2 separate regions of the Homo sapiens genome follow, and region 2 is linked to region 1. The links come from fine-mapping of genetic effects on gene expression. A gene starts in region 1. The other region holds a variant in brackets. All regions are shown on one strand. Distances are from middle to middle.

Evidence for each region. PIP is the estimated chance that this variant, and not a neighbour inherited with it, causes the effect.
Region 2: its variant is the best candidate, but not a certain one, in a credible set for the expression of GFPT2 in thyroid (GTEx, PIP 0.90).

What each region holds. Positions count from the first base shown.
Region 1 is chr5:180,351,117-180,356,479 of GRCh38, forward strand. It overlaps GFPT2 (glutamine-fructose-6-phosphate transaminase 2), which reads right to left and starts at 2,220. Exons shown (of 19, transcript NM_005110.4): 1 at 2,095-2,220. The coding sequence starts at 2,101. RefSeq lists an enhancer at 374-874 and a silencer at 2,247-2,476.
Region 2 is chr5:180,389,680-180,395,042 of GRCh38, forward strand. No RefSeq gene overlaps it. Among named protein-coding and RNA genes, the nearest start is that of GFPT2, 39 kb to the left of the region's middle. The variant C/A (reference allele first, on the strand shown) is at 2,490.

The DNA of each region.
Region 1 (5,363 bases):
ATTTAAATGAATTCATGCCAAAAGAAAACAACCATAAAAGGAAAATCAGTATCACTTGTCATACATACTCAGACCATCATCCCCCCCAAACAGACCAATGTATTCAATTCTAGCCAGCTGCTGCTGCCTGCTCTGAGCCAGGAATGGCTTCCCCTCTGCACAGGATACTTAAGCAAGTGTCAGAGAGATGTTAAGGACACGTTAGCACCAAGTTGAAACTTTCTCCTGATGTTCTTGAAAAGGAAATAACTTTCCCATGCAGGGATTCCACGACTTCCTGCTGAGCTGTGCCCTCCCCACTTCCCCCACCCTGCCCCCAGCCCCAAATCAGCAAATCTGGGAATTCTGAGAAGGCACCTAAGCCAGCACGCACTCTTTGATTCTGGCTCCGAGTGGGCACCCCCATGGACCGCAGCCACTCCTGAGCCCTGGGTGTCCTTTGGGGACCTCAAGCTCCTTCTCACATACAACCACAAGTCAGTACCAGAAAATCTGAAGATACAGGTGGTCACACCCCAAAGCTCAACCTTTCCCTAGGAGACAACGCGTGTGTGTCCCTTTAAGAAGCAGAACAAAAACACTTGTGATTTTGTGAGCTGGAGGAGGTAGAGCCCCCCCAAAGCTCAGAGAGACTTGGGAAAAAGCAAGATGCCAGTAGGAAGGAGGATGACAGGCAGGGGTGGCAGTGGGGGCAGAGGAGCATCTGAAAGGAAGGGGAAGGGGAGCCTCTGGTGCTGTGGGCAGACCCTCCTGGTTCAAGGGTCTCCTGCACAAGTCTGGCCCCAAGGCCACCAGTTTTGGCCAAGGGTCTTGAATGCTACACTGAGAGGTGTGGAACATCAGGGCTTGGACATCTGGCAAAACTACCACCTTTGCCTCATCTCTGCCCCCAGAAACACCCAAAGGTGGCTCTACACATGGAGAATGGCGTCTGGGAGCACGAGATTTTAGCTGAGGGTTCAGGAATTTCCACGGATGCCTGTTCAGCCTGGGTGAGGCGGCATCCCGAAGCACGCTGCCCGCTCCGCCGTAGGTCGTTCCCTTCTGCCGAGCAGCTGGCCTCCGAGACAAGAGGCCTGCACAGACCTCGGCCAGGGCTCACCGCGGGCGCACCCCACCCCGGCCCTCAGCAAAGTCAGAGAGAGGCCTTTCATGGCTTCGAAAGTTCCTCCAGGTCCTCCAGCCACAGGAGGCTGGAATGGGTAACCGAATCCTACTCAAGGAAAAAAAAAAAAAAAAAAAAGAGCACAGTGACCTTTTGTCCCAGCAGAAGTTCCCGGCTCTCTCCCGGCCAGCGGAGGCGGCCCAGCCAGGAGAGTAAAGAATTGCAGATGTGCGCTCCGGGCCGCGGCCGCCCTCCCCACGGTCCCGCAGCCACGCGGGACAGCGCGGGAGCGCCGCGGGAATCGGACGCCCGGCCCCGCTCCCCGCCCCGGACTCCCTCTCGTGGCTTCGGGCCGAGGTTCGGGCAGTGACTGCCTCTTCCCCGCGCAAAGAGGCGGTAACGCGGCAGCGACCCTTCTAGGGACCAGACGTTCCTTTGGGGTCGCGAGGAGGACGCGCAGGCCCTGCCTGAGGCACTGACGCAGCGGGGGCGACCGGGCGGGCTGCGGGGACGGCGGGGCGGGGTCGCCTCTCCTCTCCTCGGTGGGCGCGGCGGGCTGAGTCGGGATGGGCGCCCCGCACTCGGGATGCGCCGGCCTGCGCGTGGCCGCCTTTGTGGGCGACTGGGAGACGTGGAGGAGAGCGACCTCGGTCGGCATGGGGTGGGGACCCCTCTGTTACGGGGTCCAGGCCGGACCGGACCAGGTCCCTCCCCTCCGTGGGGACCGGGCCTCGGTCCCCCTCACTGTGTCCGAGACCAGGAGTCGGGTTGGGCATCCCCCACCCACACCTCCGAGACGGCCACTCGGGGAACGCGGGTGAGGGGCAGCCAGGCCCGGCCGACGACAGCCCCTCGGTAGGGGCCCGGGGCAGATCGGCGCCCCCAGCCAGGTCCTCGGCGCCTGCTTGCGGGCGGAGGCGCGGAGAGGCTGCGGCGCCGGGACCCGCGGACGGCGTGGAGGAGGCGGCTCGGGCGGGCGCGGCACTCACCGCACATCGTGGCTGCTTCTCGGGCTCCTTCGCGGCTCGAGGGGGTCTGCCCGTTCGGACGCTGGGGCTCCTCCGTGGGCTCCTCCGTGGGCTCCGTGGGCTCCGTGGGCTCCGCGGGCTCCAGCTCCCGTCCGCTCGGCCTCCAGCCCTTATAACCCGGAGCCCTCCGAGAGGGCGGGGAAGGGGGCGGGGAAGGGGCGGGGCTTCCCCCGCCCGCCTGCTCCCATTGGCCCCCGGTTGTCGTGACAACGACGGGACCCGGCCCCCAGGAGCCAGGGAGGGGGGCCGAGGGGCGGCTCCCAGGCGCGGGTCGGGCGTGTAAGGCTGGGGCGCCGGGCGCCAGATCCCGGAGCGGGGCTTAGGGCAACCAACGGCCCGAGTTCAGACCCCGACTCAACCAGAGTAGGCGTGGAAGCCGGGCAGGGCCCGATCGCGCTGTGCCTCCGCTTTCCCGTCTGTGAAACGGGGCTACCCAGGGAAGCTCCCTCCCACGGGGTGCTGAGAAGTCAGACGGGCCGCGTAAGGGGCAGAGCGAGGGGTCCGGCATCACTCGCGCGCTCCGGAAACCCGCGTGAGCCGCTGTTCCTGCCGCGCTCCCATCTGAGTGACAGGCTTGTTTCAGAGCTCCGCAGACCTCTAAGCCTGGCCCTCACCCTGCGTGGAGAGAACGCCCGGGCTTGGCGGAGAGACGAGAAAACCGAGGCTCCCGGAGGCAGACAAGGACTCTGCCAAAACCGGACGCCGCGGCGGTGGCAGAATTCGACCCTGGGATTTGCCGCGGAGCCCGAGCTTGAAGGCGAGGGTTCCGCAGGTTGTGAACGAAGCTGGAGGCGCCCCAGGAAGCCCCGACCCCACCCGCGCCGAGCTGCCCCCTCCCCAGATCTGCCTCGCGCTGCAGGCCCGCGAGGGACCCGGGGGTTCCTACGCCTGGGGTCGGAATCCGACCCCCCAGTGAGGCACCAAGGCCCGCGTTTCTCCGCCCTGGTTCCCGGCCGTCCCTCCCGTTCCCCCTGCACTCTGGGCCCCTCGTCTCCCGAGGAAGGTCACGAGAACCGGCCCAACGTTTGCGCACTTTGAAGTTTTTTTTTTTCTTAAAAAAATCCTGAAATTCTAAACGGATCCTCCTCAGTCGTGTAAAAAAAAAAAGATTTTTACATCTCGTCTAGAGCATTTTTCTAACATAATCCCTCCCTAGTTTCACCGCGACTCTGCAAGCCCTGGGGGAAGGAGGTTGTGCCATTGGAGGGTTGGGAAAACTGAGGCTCCACGACAGCGAAGGAGGGGGCTTGGGTGAGTCCTGTTGTTGGGAAATCTCAGAGCGATTCAGGAGCCGCAGCGTTTGCCCCCAACCCTCCACTATGCAGGGTCGCTTTCCTTCCTTCCTTCTCTCATTCCTAAGAACCCACTTCACACCTGTCAGGGTGCAGGTGCAAGAGACTTATTGATGAATGAGAACAGATCTGGCCCTGCCCTCCTGGCACTTACAAGTGAAGGGGAAGCAGACACTAAGCTCGTGGTTACACAGAGAGCTAAAAATTCCAGGTAGGATACAAGGAGGGGGCTGGGCCAGCGGTGGAGAGGGTGCCAGGCTCTGCCTGGGACTGGGCAGGGCTGCGCTGGTGCAGGTGGTCCAGAGCCTAGCGAAGCCAGGAAGGAGGGAGCAGCAGGCAGTGCAAAGGTCCCCTGGATGAGGGCTAGAACTTGAATGTGGAGATCAGGTTGTTTGGCCCAGACTGGCCTCCACTGTTGTAACTGAGGCGGGGACAGGGTGATGTCAACAGGCCCTCTGATAGCACCAAGACCCCAGGAGCCCTGGGGTCTTAGCAGGGTCCAAATCTGTCCTTTATCCTCCTGGAGGAGTCACAGGTCCACGGTGAGGAACGGCATGAGTGCACACTACCACCCATGGGGATGTGTCTGTAGCAGCTGCCGGCCTAGCATCACTCCTGCTTTGAGAACCCTCTGAGAGTCATCTGGGAGGTTGATGGCCTGGGCCTGGCCACACAGCCTGGGCAGTGGTTCAGAGGTCAGCATATGGCCCAGGCTGGGACGTTGATGACCTGCTCCAGCACATGAGGGAAACCAGCAGAAAAGATGAACTTGGCCTGGTACAGTGGCTTGGGTCTGTCATCCCAGCACTTTGGGAGGCTGAGGTGGGAGAACTGCTTGAGGCCAGAAGTTGGAGACCAGCCTGGGCAACAGGGAGACCCATCTTTACAAAAAGTAAAAAAAAAAAAAAAAAAAAAAAAAAAAAGCCAGGCACGCTGGGTGCAATGGCTCATGCCTGTAATCCCACCACTTTGGGGGGCAAAAGTTTGAGATCTTTGGGATTGCTTGAGCCCAGGAGTTCGAGACCAGCCTGGGCAACACAGCAAAACCCGTCTCTACTAAAAACACAAAAATTAGCCAGGTGTGGTAATGTGCACCTGTAGTTCCAGCTACTCGAGAGGCCGAGGCACGAGAATGGCTTGAAACTGGGAGGTGGAGGCTGAAGTGAGCCAAAATTGCACCACTACACTCCAGCCTGGGCGACAGAGCAAGACTGTCTCAAAACAAAACAAAAATCCAGGTGTGATGGCACGTGCCTGTAGTCTCAGCTACTCAGGAGGCGGGAGGACTGCTTGATCAGCCTGGACAACATATTAAAACCTTGTCTCTACAAAATAATTTTTTTAAGTAAAAAAGATGGCTTATTCTCTCCTGAGTGGTGTGGCTGGTAGGAGAATGTCCTGATGATGCTGGGACCTTCTCATCACTTTTGCAGTGGGGTGGAGAGAGGCCACTGAAGAGCGGGGCAATCGGAGCAAGGCAGATGGATCTAGGATGGAGACGATACACATCAGAGCCCCTGGATTCGGCCAGGTCTGAAGCCAGGATTTATCCCTGGACTTCTCAGTATCAGGGCTCAATAAATTCTCATCTTTGCTTGAGGTACTCTGAAGTGACTTCTGTCATTTGCAACCAAGTAGAGTCCTGACTCTTGGATCGTGCTGGAACTAAAGTCTGAGGCCCAGGGGAGTGGGTAGGCAGGAAGCCGGTGGCAGCCCAGAAAGGAGACCTGGTCTGGATCAGGGGGCCCAGGAGGAGGGAAGATGCAGGGCCGTGCCCAGGAGCGTCTCTCAGCTGGACCCCATACATGTGCTTACACGGGGAGCCATGCCCAGGTGCCTCTCTCAGCTGGACCCCATACCTGTGCTTACAGGGGAGCAGGGTGCTGAGTCTGCTCCTAATGGTCCCAGTGTCCACTGCCCATCCTGCTCTCCACCGCT
Region 2 (5,363 bases), 39 kb after region 1:
TCCAGAGCGACGGTGCGGGAAGCCGGTGAGTAAGTCAGAGGCTGTCTGAGCCGGGAGGACGGCTGTGCAGCCCAGGAGGGAGGAAACGATGGTTCTGTGTCAGAGCCTCGTAAACAAGCATGACCTCACGCTCGTCCCGCACACACCCCTCTGAGATCAGGCAGACCCCTCCTGTCCCCTGGACCTGCTGCACATGGGCGCTGACGCCACAGGGCCTCGCTCCTGGGGGTGGGCCTGCAGCTTGCGCAAGGAGCACAGGGACATGGGCGGCTCAAGGAGGACATGCCGGCCCTGCCCCGCGAGCCACGGATGAGAAGTACTCGACGTTTGTGTGTGCCAGGCCTAGGCGTAAGTGCTGGGGACACGGAGGGTGGCCCTTGCCTCCGGGATCCCTGGTGGGGACACGGTCGTGAATATTTTAGCACAATACAGAGCAGCCAGCCAGCAGCATAGCAGGGAACGTCCAGGCACAGGGCACTCAGAAGAAAGGGAATTATTCTGCCTGTGGGTCAAGGGAAGCTTCTGGAAGGGGAAAATTTGTCCACTGTGTCTTGAAGGGGCTTGCCAAAGAAAGATAAGGAAAGGGATTCCAGGCTGGGATGCCAAGAAGGGCTGTCTGGGAAAGGCCAAGTTCAAGGGCCAAAGGACTGGGACCCTGGCCACGCTGACCCCTCTGCCCCGAGCTTCTTCTGTTTCTCCTCCCAGAGGGACCCCAGGAGCCACACAGATTCAGTGCAGCTGAGCACTCCACATCCTGGGTCCCCAGTGCTCAAGGGTGACAGGTGAGGCCCCACCTCACCAGCTTTCGGATGGGGACCCCTCCCATCCAGGGAGGTCCCTGAGGCCGTCTGGCTCTAACAGTGAGGAAGCCTCCTTCCTGCCCATCCCTGGCCTGCCTGCCCCCCGTGTGTCATTTCCAAGTGCTCGCCACTCTGGCCACAAACCCCAGGCCAGGAGGCGGCTGCCAACCTCGCTCAGGTTGCCTTGGGGCCTCCATTATCCCCAACCTGGGCATGAAGGAGAAAGGTGAGGACCCAGCAGCATGGCCCCACTCAGGGCCTCTGCAGTCACCCCCTCCCAACCTCCATCCATCCTGCACATGTCCACAGCTGGATGGTGGGAGGGTGACTTCCCTTGTGCAGGATCAGGGCACGGTTGGAACTTGGTGGAGCCTTGACTGGAGCTGGGGAGGCTTCGGTGCGACCTGGCTCTTCTGACTCCCGTGGGAGAGTCACCGTGGTGGCCTGTGCTGGAGAATCAGTAGCCGCTGGGGCTGTGGCCAACTGGGAAGGGAGGTGACTATCTGCAGGGGTGGCTGCTGCCCAGCACCACCCGCCTGTGGCTTCGTGGAACTACAAGTCACATGTGGCCAGACCACAGAGCCGGCCCCACCCCATCTTTAAAGAGAGGCTGGAAATTCAGATATTAGGTAAATGCCTTCTGATGTTAACATGTAGCAACCAGTTCAAAATGTGAAAATGCTCCATGAGGGCCAGTTAACACAAGTCTGTGGGTTGGCATGGCCTCCAGTGGCCATCTGCATCCTCTGCTTTTCACTGAAACATTGCCCCAGTTTACAAATGAGGCTACTGAGGCCCAGAGACCCACGGTGACCGCCCACGGGAGGCAGAGCCAGGTGTAGACATCCTCCACCCCCTCTGCCTGAGTCGAGCTGCCCCTGTGAGGGCTGGATGGTGGCCACCAACCTGGCTGCTCAGTGAACTGCCACCCCTTCTGGGTGAGCCATGCAGAGGACCTCATTGGAGTCCTGCCCCCAATAAACACCTGGGGACATGCTTCCAAAGCCCAGGCCGGGCCTTAGAATAGTTTGCAGGCGCTGGGAACTGATTCCCCTCTTGGGCACAGGAGAACAGACCAATGGGGGCCCCGGGTGCCCCAGGCCCATACACCCTGCATGCACAGGCTGAGCCCTTCAAGGTGCTCTTCCCCTTACCAAACCCCCAGCCTCCCTTCCTTGTGGACCCCATCAGAGCTGACATGCCAACAAGCCAGGACCCACAGCCTGGACCTGTCTTAAGGAGGCTGCCAGGATCACCTCTCCAGGCCCTGTCTGCTGTTCCCGACATAGTGAGGAGGGGCTCTGGGGGGCTGGAAGGCCAGGGTGCCCCAAGTTGAGCTGGGGCAGTCCCCTTGGAGTGAAGGTGCGCATCTTGCCACTTCACCGGAGCGTAAGAGATGTTCTGGTGAGCAATTTCACCTCCTCACTCCCTTCTCCTTATTACATCATCATCACCATAATCCTGATCGCTCATCTGCACGCGTGACTCACACGCAGTGTTCCATGCACTGCACTAGGCACCTCCGCTGCACCCTCCCTTCCTTCCTTCTTTCTTTTCTTTTCGACGGAGTCTTGCTCTGTCACCCAGGCTGGAGTGCAGTGGCGCCATCTCGGCTCACTGCAACCTCCGCCTCCCGGGTTCAAGTGATTCTCCTCCCTCAGCCTCCTGAGTAACTGGGACTACAGACGC[C/A]CACCACCATGCCTAGTTAATTTTTGTATTTTTAGTAGAGACGGGGTTTCCCCATGTTGACCTCAGGTGATCTGCCCGCCTCGGCCTCCCAAAGTGCTGGGATTACAGGCGTGAGCCACCCACTCCCGGCCTCACTGAACTATCTCATGCATTCCAATAACAGTCCTCTGAGCTAAGTCTTATTATTTTTATTTTTGTTTACAGATGGGCTGGAATTGCTCATGGCAACACTGGGATTCAGAGCAGCACCAACACTAGGAACAGTGTTATCTGTCCTCCGAGTCCGTGCTCTTAACTGTTATGTGCCCTCCCCTCATGGCCTTAGGTTCAAGTCGCACCTGTCACTTTTTTTTTTTTTTTTTTTTTTAGACGGAGTCTCACTCTGTCACCCAGGCTGGAGTGCAGTGGCGTGATCTCGGCTCACTGCAAGCTCTGCCTCCCGGGTTCACGCCATTCTCCTGCCTCAGCCTCCGGAGTAGCTGGGACTACAGGTGTCCGCCACCACACCCAGCTAATTTTTTGTATTTTTTTTTTAGTAGAGACGGGGTTTCACCGTGTTAGCCAGGATGGTGTCGATCTCCTGACACCGTGGTCCGCCCGCCTTGGCCTCCCAGCACCCGGGCATACCTCTTAACTGTCGCTTTGACTTTGTATCCTTTGTGTCATAAAGGTTAGCCGTGAATATAGCCTGCTACTGAATCATGTGAGCTCTTCTAGCGAAACATCAAACTCGAGGGTGATCTTGAGACCCCCAAAACAGAGGCTTGTGGAGGCATTTATAAAGCATCTGCCAGCTGGGTACAGTGGCTCATGCCTGAAATCCCAGCACTTTGGGAGGCTAAGGCAGGCGGATTGCCTGAGTCCAGGAGTTTGAGACCAGCCTGGCCAACACGGCAAAACTCCGTCTCTAAAAAAAAAAAGAAAAAAGGAAAGAAAAAGGCCAGGAGCGGTGGCTCATGCCTGTAATCCCAACACTTTGGGAGGCCGAGGCGAGTGGATCATGAGGTCAGGAGTTTGAGACCAGCCTGGCCAACATGGTGAAACCTCATCTCTACTAAAAATACAAAAATTAGCCAGGGGTGATGGTGCATGCCAGTAATCCCAGCTACTTGGGAGGCTGAAAGAGGAGAATCACTGGAAATGGAGTCGGACCCTGGGAGGTGGAGGTTACATTGAGCCAAGATGGTGCCATTGCACTCCAGCCTGGGCAAAAAGAGCGAGACTCTGTCAAAAAGAAAGAAAAGAAAAGAGGCTGGGTGTGGTGGCTCATGCTTGTAATCCCAACACTTTGGGAGTCTGAGGCGGGTGGATCATGAGGTCAGGAGTTCGAGACCAGCCTGGCCAAGATGGTGAAACCCCGTCTCTACTAAAAATACAAAAATTTGCTGCACGTGGTGGCAGGTGCCTGTAATCCCCACTACTCCGGAGAATCGGTTTAACCCAGGAGCCGGAGGTTGCAGCGAGCTGAGATTGTGCCACTGCACTCCAGCCTGGGCAACAAGAGCGAGACTCCATCTAAAAAAAAAAAGAAAAGAAGCAAAGCAGGGCAGGGCAGAGCAAGGTGAGGCATAAAAAAAGAAAAAAGAAAAAAGAAAAAGAAAGAGAATAAAGCATCTGCCCATGGCAGGCACGGGGGGTGGCCTCAGCCATGGTGTCCAGAATGACCTGTGGGGCTTCAGCCTGTTCCTGCTTTCCCCATGGGTCCTGTCCTCTCTTCTGAGCAGGGATGGGTTTTGACCTCCACCCTCAGTTCTGCCCTTTGCTTCCCTGAGTTTAGCATTCTTTCCCCATGGCTTCTTCAGAGCTGACCCCCCACCAGAACATCCCTGATCAGGGCTGGGCCCTGTCCCTCACCGGGGACACAGAGTAAAGAGGCTGACCTTGACCCAACAGGTGAGGTCGGTCAATTCCTCAGTCCAGCCTACCCTGAGAGTGAGCAGGTGTGCTCCTCAGACAGGGGCGCATACCCGGAAGGCTGCCAGGTCCGACTGGGAACTCCTCCCTTTGCATGTGCTGAGGTCAGGCCTTCAGAAGCTGCCCCTCTGGTCAATGCTAAGACAGTGCTTCCCCATCCCAGGAGGTCCGTGTATCTAGGCTAGTCCTAGGGGGCCTGAGTGCTGGAGATGGAGTCGGACCCTGGGACGAGGCAGCCTGAAGCCTTGGGAAGAAAGGAAGAAGTGTGGGTCAGACTGTAAAAGTCATTGAATAAAGAATGTATGAACACATGTTGCCCCAGCGCCCCCAGCGGAGGACCACCAGGACCATTCCCTCATTTAAGCTTGGGCTGCCACTGGGGAGTGCACACAGACGGGAAGGACTGAGTTGGGAGAGGCCTCTAGGATGTGGGCTCATGCTGGGTGAGCCGAAGGAGGGTTTCCAGGAATGTAAGTGGGTTCTGAATTGGGCGCCATCCGGAAGCAGGGGAAGTTTGATGATTCTTCATAACATTTACCTAGGAGATGGGAAGAACAAGAAAGATTAATGTTGTTATTGGGTTAAGAAGCAATCGTGGGCTGGGCGAGGTGGCTCATGCCTGTAATCCCAGCACTTTGGGAGGCCGAGGCGGGTGAATCACTTGAGGTCAGGAGTTCGAGACCAGCCTGGCCAACATGGTGAAACTCCGTCTCTACTAAAAATACAAAAATTAGCCAGGATTGATGGTACACACCTGAAATCCCAGCTACTCAGGAGGCTGAGGCAGGAAAATCACTTGAGCCCAGGAGGTGGAGGTTGCAGTGAGCCGAGATTGCGGCATTGCACTCCAGCCTGGGCAACAGAGGGAGACTCTGTCTCAGAAAAAAAAGAAGAAGAAGAAAAAAAAAAGGCCGGGCACAGTGGCTCACGCCTGTATTCCCAGCACTTTGGGAGGCCTTG